Linked DNA regions of Homo sapiens: region 1 is linked to region 2. The links come from fine-mapping of genetic effects on gene expression. A gene starts in region 2. The other region holds a variant in brackets. All regions are shown on one strand. Distances are from middle to middle.

The links. PIP is the estimated chance that this variant, and not a neighbour inherited with it, causes the effect. A credible set is the group of variants that fine-mapping cannot tell apart.
Region 1: its variant is the best candidate, but not a certain one, in a credible set for the expression of LDAH in macrophages (Nedelec 2016, PIP 0.72).

The regions. Positions count from the first base shown.
Region 1 is chr2:20,677,527-20,682,812 of GRCh38, reverse strand. It overlaps GDF7 (growth differentiation factor 7), which reads right to left. Exons shown (of 2, transcript NM_182828.4): 2 at 3,570-5,286. It also overlaps a transcript of LDAH not described here. Among named protein-coding and RNA genes, the nearest start is that of GDF7, 13 kb to the right of the region's middle. The variant G/AG (reference allele first, on the strand shown) is at 2,925.
Region 2 is chr2:20,819,915-20,825,383 of GRCh38, reverse strand. It overlaps LDAH (lipid droplet associated hydrolase), which reads left to right and starts at 2,283. Exons shown (of 7, transcript NM_021925.4): 1 at 2,283-2,347. RefSeq lists enhancers at 2,100-2,489, 2,710-2,779, 2,582-3,407.

The DNA of each region.
Region 1 (5,286 bases), 140 kb after region 2:
GAGCTGGGGTTCTCCTGTAGTTGCACATGTCCTCCAAAGTTCGTGTGTTAGAGACTTAATCCCCAATGCAACTATTGGGAGGTGGGTCCTAACAGGAAGTGTCTGAGTCATGAGGGCCCTTCCTTCCTGAATGGATTAATGCCAGTGATAAAAAGCCACAATATTAGGCTGCAAGTTTGATCTCTTGTTCTCTCATGCTCTCTTGCCCTTCCACCTTTTGCCAGGGAGGATGTAGCACAAAGGTCCTCACCAGATGCCAGCCCCTCAATCTTGGACTTTCCAGCCTCCAGAACTGTAAGAAATAAATCTCTTCTTTATAAATTACCCAGTCTCTGATATTCCATTATAGCAACAGAAAATGAACTAAGCCAGATTCCAATTCAGGCCTCTACTCCAGAGCCACCACTTCATCCCCTTTTTCCACTGCATCATGCTGCCTCCTGGAGGCCACAGTGGGCAAGCCTAGCAAAAGTGGAGAGCCGGGAAAGAGAGTCACGCAAAGGGCAAATGAGGACCCGATTGACAGAAGAAGTGACGAGTAGATCGTTGGTAACAAATGAGTAGTTTTAAAAGAATGAAAGCTATAACAGAGACCAGTTTTCAGACGGCAAAAATATGCATCAGGCAGTGGATTGAGAGAAAGCAAGCCCACATGCTGGGAGTCAGTGCTGTGGCTGCAGCCACATGGCCGGCACCTCTGCAACTCTTCCATAGCCACCTGGTCTTATGCCACGCACGGGAGCTTCCTGTGGACTCCTCTGTACAGGAATCACTGCTCCAGCTTTGATTACGCCCATCCTCTACCCCACCCCATGAGACGTGGCCTAAAATACCAACTGCTCCTGCCTCCCAGAGCGGTCCTTCCCACCCTTCCATGCCCTGCCAGTCTTCATGACCCCTGGCCTGGCCTGTGTCTACTGAATGACTTATCATTGCTGCGGGATTGTGTCTCTGCAGTCTGCTCCTCCCTGCCTCCACCAACACCCCTTCTCTCAGGAGAGTCCTAGAAGATGACCTTCTGTCTTAGTCATCTCTGTGCTGTCAGGGCATATCAAATATGGCCTGCTACACAGGGTAGTCTATAAATTTTGTTATCTAAATTAATAAAAAGTTTCTACCATACCTAATAGGCAAGCTGTGAAAAAGTGCAATTCTCACATTGGGTCGGACTACCAGGAAATCACATCTCTGGGCTTCTTCATCTTAAAACTGACACATCAGTGGGAGTGCAGACATGGACACTTGCTCTTTTATCCCTTAAGTGTTTCCCCAGCAGAGCTGTGCACAACTGGGTCAGATAGATTCAAGGATGTCTGAATCTTTGCAGACTGTTTGTGTCTGGCACTGGGGGACTGCAAGGAAGCAAGGCCACTATCCCTTGTGTCCCATTCATCTTGTCTGATATGGCTGCAACTGTTACTTCCATTCTTCTACAATTAGAAAACCTCTGGAGTTTGGGTATTAGCAACTACCAAATATGTAGTTTATTATTTGCTGAGCACTAACCCCGCGCAGCACCCCGAGTGGGAATTACAGCAACAATACACATGACTGTGCTCTGGGATAATCGAGCATTTTCATTTTGTGTTGCATTCCTCAAACATTCTGGCAAAGGGGCCTGTGCTGACCTCCCCACATTGGGACAGATTTCCTTGCTGGGTAAGTCTATGGGAAAATTCCTCTTCCCTGGGATGAGAATGTGACCCTGTGACTGGGCGTCCATTACAGCCAGGGGGTGCGGTGCACCTGCAGGGTCTCCCTCCCTCACAGAGGGACTAGAATCCCGCCTCTGCAAATCCATCCAGCTCAGGCTCTGCAGAACATCTGGGCTTCCTCCTACTGGCCACTGTGAAGGGCCACGCACCTGCATGTGATTAGGACTCGGCAGACACCCACAGCCTATAGGGCTGCATGCTGGTGGCACCTCACAGTGGACAAGTTTCTCCCCAGATCATTGTCCTTTCTGAGCAGATGAGTCACAGGGTTCCTAGGACACAAGAGCACATGCATCCATGACCACGTTGGGCACCACCCTCAATGGAACAGCAGTTGGAGGCATCTTTGCCTTGGCCTGCTTGGAAATGAGCAGGCATCAGAGGCAGATCCAGGACCTGACAGGACCAGGGAAGGAGTGGAGAAGTCAATCTTAGCCGCCTTTACCATTAGTCATGGACGGGCCTTTTAGATTTGCTCTTATCAGTGTCTGGGAAATTGGATAAAATTTTTAATGCCACTCCCGACTTTCCTTTCTCCCTGTAACTACTCCTCTACTGAATGTGTACTCTAACCACAGAATGCTGTGGTAGGTCAAATGGAGACTGAAAAATAAGAAAATGAAAAATGGACCAAAGATGCTTATAAACAAAGCATGACAAGACATTCCAGTTTTCGATGGCAGGGTCATAGAACTTACACATTGATTGTACCTGCCAAATGAGTTAGTTGGAAAGGGAACACAATTTCTCTTCCAAAGAAGAGACTCCTTTATTTATAATAGGAAATCGAGTGGTGAAAAGAAGGCAGGCTTTCTTGATCTTTCACCAGAGAGAGAAAGTTACATAACCACAGGGACCTGCATTAACAAACTGGGATATTGAATTCACCATGAACATGGGCTGCCATCACTGACGAAAATGTGGGTCACTCCAGCAGGCTTCATATCGCAAAAGAGGTAATCCTGGTAACAGTCACTAATAAGGCCAAGTCCCTGTCAACTTCCTACAATTCCTGCTCTGTCATTAGTCCTCTCCCAGAAATATTTAAGGAACACATGAAATAGATTTCTCCATCTGGGCAAAAGTCAGCTGTGAGAGCTGGGATAGCAACAGAACGCTGTGTGGTTGATCCTGTCCTGCTGCATCCTTCGTGGTGTCACCAAGCACAGGCTTTTGTACTTGTCTCGAAGAGTACTGGGCAAAAAAAAA[G/AG]GCCTGTCGAATTTGCTGTAGGACCTTATTGGGTTCTGTGACGTATGTAATTGGCCTTGCAGAGGAAGCGGCTTCCATGGGACTTTATGCCTTGGGATTTCAGAGACTTACCTGTGCATCCTCCAGGTGGGGAGGGCTCATGCTTTCTGGAGTGAGACAGGTCCTGCAGCAGTCTGAGATGTATAAACACAGAAAACCTGTCCACCCAAACTGCATTTGGAATGACAGTGCTCACTCTACACATTATCATGCTCATTTCCCAAAGAGAAAATGTTTTCCACTGCATTTTGGCCTCCTTTCCTGAACCCAAGCTTGATGTTTTTTACCTTGCTCTGCAGTGACTTCATGCCGTGTGAGGCTGTGTGCAGCAGCATCATATACAGTTTCATACCAGTCACCAAGACCCAGGGTGCAGCCCCCCATACCAGAGGCCCACAGCCTCACACCTGATCTGACAATACAGGGGAATGATCGGCACAAAGGCAAGTGGAGTCAGGCCTGTTATGTCACTCTCACTATTAAAATGCAGTCAGTCCTAAGGCCTCAATAGCTGGTCGCTATTCTATTAATGAGGACTACAGTAACACAGAAAGGCTGAGTAACAAAAGCTGAAAATGTTTTCCTTTAGAGACCAGTCATGAGCGGTTTTATGAATAAAATATTTAATCAACTTATCTGTACAAAATATTAAAATGGTTAATGAAGAGTATACAAGCATGTTCAACAAATATATACTGCTATATAATAGTTAAGAAAAATAGAGATTGCTGTTTTACATGTCATTTACATTTCACTATGTACAATCTATTTAAATTTGAGAATATATATACACATAGGTTTCTACCAGCCCTGGGAGGGCTCCCTGCTAGCTGGCCTGGGCATCGGCAACACCTCACAATGTCAGCTTGCATTGCCCAAATAAACACCCAAGCCAGGCAGCAAGGAGACAGCCCAGCCTGCAAGCCTCGGAGTTCTGCTGTGGCTACACCAGCAGGAAGACTGCTGATGAAGGAGATTTCAGTTTGCCTTAAATGAGTTTCTAATGTCCCCCCACACTCCAATCTCCTTACTCCCAAGCCAAGCTAAGAAAAAGTGGGTGTCACTGCAAAGCGAAAGGATTTCTATCCCCTCACCAAAATAATTCTTTTTGTCTTTAGCTGCTGAGGAAATGGCATGTTACTGAGCCTTGATGGCATTACTGGCACTTTGAGTTTTACCGTTTCCTTAAAATCACAGTACTGGAATCAGATGAAATTTGCTTTCTAAGCTGCAGCCACTCGTCATGTGCAGAATTCTGCTGCCCACCCAAGTCCTGCTTAAACAGCCGCATTTTATAAGCTGGTACGGGAGCTCTGCAACAACCTTCACAGAGAAAGGATCTGCTGCTTTATTTGTATACAAAAAGAAAAAGACAGTCCAAACTTTTCAGAATCCCTTATTGTCATCTGCTGAAAGGGCAAGTTGTAGTTAGCATGTTAATCCTTGTAAAAAATGCATTAACTTTTCATTTAGGGTGAAATGCTTCCAGCTAAAAGACCTAAAGTGACTCAATTATGATTCTTCGTCAAAGAAAACATAAAAGCTGTTTGCATTACAGTGTAAAGTGAAATACAAAAATAAAATTATTCTAAGGATGCTCATGTTTAATCCATGATTTATCCAAGGCAGAGAATGCCAGAGAATTCCTCTCTTGAGAGTCTCTGTTCCTGGCTTAGAACACTTGAGTATTTCCCCTCCAGAAAACATATTTTATCCTGAGCTTTCTTTCTCACTGAACTGCATCATCATTTTCTAAACAGAATGCTGAAGAGCTGACTTTGAGTCTGACAGGCCCTGACCCAGGAAATGAGCCCTGCTTGTGGGCAGCCCCTTCCTCAAGCCAGCCTACTCACCCCAAGCCCAGCTGCTGCTGCTGCTGCTGCCCCAGGCCAGGGGAGGATCCAGGACACATGTGCGTTGTCTGGCCTTGGCAGCCCTCAGTCACTCAGAGATAAAAAGGTGCAGGCAAGGGGAGGCCCTCAACACACCTGGTCACTGCTTTTCAGACTCATTCACCAAAAAATCCAGGCATGGGCTGCCCATAGCCCATGAGCGGTCTCCCCAGGATGACCTGTGAGTACTAAAAACCAGAGAAAAGGTGTGTGCAGTTGCACCAGCTCACCAGCTTCGGTGCTGTCGCTTCCCATGTTGCAGCTCAGGAAATGTCCTCGAGGGAAGTTTAGCCCCGTTTGCTTTGGATTCGTTCCTGTTTCCTTCTAATTCAGCAGGATGCCTGTTAACGAACCTTACTCGGAAGTCTCGCTTTGGTCAGCCATGGTTCTAGATTCTGGCAGCCAAAGGTCTGGGCAGGAGCTAGATGCAG
Region 2 (5,469 bases):
TGCTGATATCAAATTTTTAGAGAGTTTCACCTTCTTAACAAATCACAAATCAGAAAATCCTTAAATTCCACCTATGACCTGTGGGCCCCCCTCTTTGAGATGCCCCGCCAATGCACGGCAGGCAAGCCCCAAATTGGGGATTTGCCCAGTAGAGTTCTTAGCTTCGCCAAGAAAGAATTCAAGGGTGAGCCGGTGGTGTTAAATAGCAACTTTTACTGAAGTAGTAGTGTCCAGAAGCAGCAGAGATACTGCTCCTTGCAGAGCAGGGCTACCCCATAGGCAGTGTGTCCAGAGTAGCATCTGAAAGGCAGTTCTTCTGTCATATTTATAATCATTTTTAATTACAGGCAAATTAAGGGGTGAATTATGCAGAAATTTCTAGGAAAAGGGTGGTAACCTCTGGGTTGTCAGGTTGTTGCCATGGAAAGGGGCATTAATATGGAAAGCTGCTTCCTCCCTGCCCCTGTTTTAGCTAGTCCTCAATTTGGTCTGGTGTCCAATTCCTGCATCCTACCTCACTGCATTTTTAGGTTAAGCCAATATATAACCTCCATATATTGATTTATGACTTTGCCTATAACCTCTGACACCCCTGCATTTAAAAACCCTTACCTATAAACAATTAGGGAGTTCAAGACTTAAGCACTAACTGACCAGTTCTCCTTGCTTGGGACCCTACAATAAATGCCTCACTTTCTTTCACTATAATCCTGATGTCAGTGTTTGGTCTTGCTGCACAGGCAATTGGACTCCAGTTTGGTTTGATAACAGCTCTTGAGAGATTGGAAAAGAGAGAGTCCCTGAGAGAGTGGGTTGTTTTCCACCTCCTGTTTGGTCTGTTTTCACATGTATCAGCTTCCCCTTTGACCTTCTACCATGTTGTGACACTGCACAAAAAACTCTAACCAGAACTGAGCAGATGCTCACACTATGCCCCTTGAGCTTTCCAATGTGCAGAACCATGAGCTAAGTAAACCTCTTTTTTAAATCCAAGCATACTTTGAAGATATTGGGGGTTCAGTTCCATACTACCACAATAAAGCAAACATCACAATAAGGCAGTTCACAGAATTTTTTTGGTTTCCCAGTGCATATAAAATTTATATTTACACTGTACTGTAGATTATTGTGTACAACAGTATTATGTCTAAAAAAAGTACATACTAAGAAAAGAAAAATAGCCCAGAGCTGTCTGAGCTATGTGAGGTATGCAAAATTTATTAGACCCGGACAGAAGTGAATACTGGCTTCCGCCACGCCTTCCCATGCCTTAGGGCAATTGTTAAAGGCATTTTGTTCTTTATTAGCTGCCTCACCCATTATCTTTATGTTCCTGGAATTTGTGATACAAGGAAGAAAGCATAGCCAGTCAATAGCTTAAGTTTTTTAAATATAAATTCTTGGTAAACAAGTTAAGCTCTGCCTCCTCTCCTTTCCTTAAAAACCGGCTCACGCCTGTAATCCCAGCACTTTGGGAGGCCGAGGCGGGTGGATCATGAGGTCAGGAGATCGAGACCATCCTGGCTAACAAGGTGAAACCCCGTCTCTACTAAAAATACAAAAAATTAGCCGGGCGCGGTGGCGGGCGCCTGTAGTCCCAGCTACTCGGGAGGCTGAGGCAGGAGAATGGCGTGAACCCGGGAAGCGGAGCTTTCAGTGAGCCGAGATTGCGCCACTGCGGTCCGCAGTCCGGCCTGGGCGACAGAGCAAGACTCCGTCTCAAAAAAAAAAAAAAAAAAAAAAAAAAACCTACTCCGACTGCTGCTAATTGGAGTGTATATTCAAGGCAACTTGAATCTAAGCTCCTGAGTGGCCATTCTCAAGCACTGAGCCCAAATAAACTCTATACTTAATATTATTCTCTGAATTTTCTTAAAGTTGGCAACACCTTAATTAAAAAAATACTTTATTGATCATGCTTATGAACATGATCAAATGAGAATCAACTTTCCTGTGTATGTGGGGAAGATATGCAACTAGTAACGCAGAAAGAGGGAAATGGGAAGAGGGAGAAAAGAGGGGCAGACATGGAACAAATGAGAGAGAAGGAAAGGGAAGCCAGAAGCCAGAAGCACATCAAGGATGACAGAAAATAAAAGGCGGATAAAATTCAAATGAAAAAGAAAGGAAAACCCCGACACCCTCCAAGAGGTCTCTCTGATCTGGACCACCGGCTCCAAGCCAGTAAGAAATCTCCCAGCCAGCTGTGCGCCGCGCGCCAGGCTGACATCGGCTTCCCGGATCAGCTCCGGCGCGGTACTGTGACGTCACCTGAGGGGGGCACTTCCGGTCTCGTGCCGCCTTCCCAGGACCCTCAGGGAGAGCGGGCAGCCTTCCAGGTGGACAGGTGAGGTACAGCTTGCCGAGCTCAGGGTGACTGCCCAAAGGAAGGACGGGTGGGCAGGCACGCGGGATCTGGCGCCCCTTCTTCTCTATGGTTCCTCGCAGAGCCCCTGTTGCCCTGGGCCAGATGGCCCGTAGCAGCAAAAATAATACTGTTCCGACAGCTCGCGAGTTCGGAGCCACTTGGCCTGGGAGTCCCTTGAGTTGCAGGCCGGGCAGTCGCTCACCCGAGCGCGGTAATGCAGCATTTGAACCCCTAAGTGTAGCCCACCTGTAGGGAGTCTTATGGTGCCCCCGCGGAGGAGTAGAGGCCAAAAAGTTGGGCAGCTGGCCGGGAAGAACTCGCTAGGAGGGGTCAAACTCTGGGCCGGGAGTGTTCTTTGCCCCCGGCGTTTAGTGCTCACGCCGCCTTTTATTCACGCTGAAGACCTTAACCGTAAACCCTCATCCTTGGGTCTTAGTTTGGTTTTGTTCCCCACGCAAGACAGAATGCAGATTGGAACACTTTATTCCTTGGTTAATTCGTATCTTCCCTCGCAAGTAGTTACCGGACACCTGCTTTGTGTCCTGTGTACCAAACACAAGAGTTGATAGTCCTGGCCGGGCGCCGTGGCTCACGCCTGTAATCCCAGCACTTTGGGACCCCGAGGCGGGCGGATCAGGAGGTCAGGAGATCGAGACCATCCTGGCTAACACGGTGAAACCCCATCTTTACTAAAAATACAAAAATAAATACATAAATAAATAAATTAGCCGGGCGTGGTGGCGGGCGCCTGTAGTCCCAGCTACTCGGGAGACTGAAGCAGGAGAATGGCGTGAACCCGGGAGGTGGAGCTTGCAGTGAGCCGAGATGGCGCCACTGCACTCTAGCCTGGGCGACAAAGTGAGACTCAGTCTCAAAAAAAAAAAAAGAGTTGATAGTCCTTGAGTTGAAAGAACAAATCTGTATGGAGAAAGAGATACAACCAAAAGAAACCCAGAAGATTTAGAAGCATCTCCAGAATGTTTATTCTCAAAAGCTGTTTTTTAATTAAACTTCTTTCTGAAACTATACGTAGGAGTGTCTCTTGTGTGTTTCCCCATTTTTCCACCTGAAGGTTAAAGACTTAGAAACCTGCTAAGGCCCCTCTTTCCAGCATGTAGCATTCTAGGGGGATAATCAGGGCAACACAGTGGGTGCCCATCTAAAATTTTATATTTTAATATTTTGCTTTTTGATAACTTAATGCCTTCAGACTGGAGGATTTTTTCTTTCTTTTTTTTAATTTTTTTAAAATTATACTTTAAGTTCTAGGGTACATATGCACAACGTGCAGGTTTGTTACATATGTATACATGTGCCATGTTGGTGTGCTGCACCCATTAACTTGTCATTTACATTAGGTATATCTCCTAATGCTATCCCTCCCCACTCACCCCACCCCACAACAGGCCCCGGTGTGTGATCTCCCCCTTCCTGTGTCCAAGTGTTCTCATTGTTCAATTCCCACCTATGAGTGAGAACATGTGGTGTTTGGTTTTTTGTCCTTGCGATAGTTTGCTGAGAATGATGGTTTCCAGCTTCATCCATGTCCCTACAAAGGACATGAACTCATTCTTTTTTATGGCTGCATAGTATCCCATGGTGTATATGTGCCACATTTTCTTAATCCAGTCTATCATTGTTGGACGTTTGGGTTGGTTCCAAGTCTTTGCTATTGTAAGTAGTGCTGCAATAAACATACATGTGCATGTGTCTTTATAGCAGCATGATTTATATTCCTTTGGGTATATACCCAGTAATGGGATGGCTGGGTCAAATGGTATTTCTAGTTCTAGATCCCTGAGGAATCGCCACACTGACTTCCACAATGGTTGAGCTAGTTTACAGTCCCACCAACAGTGTAAAAGTGTTCCTGTTTCTCCACATCTTCTCCAGCACCTGTTGTTTCCTGACTTTTTAATGATCACCATTCTAACTGCTGTGAGAAGATGTCTCATTGTAGTTTTGATTTGCATTTCTCTGATGGCCAGTGATGATGAGCATTTTTTCATGTGTTTTTTGTCTGCATAAATGTCTTCTTTTGAGAAGTGTCTGTTCATATCCTTCACCCACTTTTTGATGGGGTTGTTTGTTTTTTTCTTGTAAATTTGTTTGAGTTCTTTGTAGATTCTGGATATTAGCCCTTTGTCAGATGAGTAGGTTGCAAAAATTTTCTCCCATTCTGTAGGTTGCCTGTTCACTCTGATGGTAGTTTCTTTTGCTGTGCAGAAGCTCTTTAGTTAAATTAGATCCCATTTGTCAATTTTGGCTTTTGTTGCCATTGCTTTTGGTGTTTTAGACATGAAGTCCTTGCCCATGCCTATGTCCTGAATGGTATTGCCTAGGTTTTCTTCTAGGGTTTTTATGGTTTTAGGTCTAACATTTAAGTCTTTAATCCATCTTGAATTAATTTTTGTATAAGGTGTAAGGAAGGGATCCAGTTTCAGCTTTCTACATATGGCTAGCCAGTTTTCCCAGCACCATTTGTTAAGTAGGGAATCCTTTCCCCATTTCTTGTTTTTGTCAGGTTTGTCAAAGATCAGATAGTTGTAGATGTGTGGTATTATTTCTGAGGGCTCTGTTCTGTTCCATTGATCTATATCTCTGTTTTGGTACCAGTACCATGCTGTTTTGGTTACTGTAGCCTTGTAGTATAGTTTGAAGTCAGGTAGCGTGATGCCTCCAGCTTTGTTCTTTTTGCTTAGGACTGACTTGGCAATGCAGGCTCTTTTTTGGTTCCATATGAACTTTAAAGTAGTTTTTTCCAATTCCATGAAGAAAGTCATTGGTAGCTTGATGGGGATGGCATTGAATCTATAAATTACCTTGGGCAGTATGGCCATTTTCACAATATTGATTCTTCCTATCCATGAGCATGGAATGTTCTTCCATTTGTTTGTGTCCTCTTTTATTTCATTGAGCAGTGGTTTGTAGTTCTCCTTGAAGAGGTCCTTCACATCCCTTGTAAGTTGGATTCCTAGGTATTTTGTTCTCTTTGAAGCAATTGTGAATGGGAGTTCACTCATGATTTGGCTCTCTGTTTGTCTGTTATTGGTGTATAAGAATGCTTGTGATTTTTGCACATTGATTTTGTATCTTGAGAC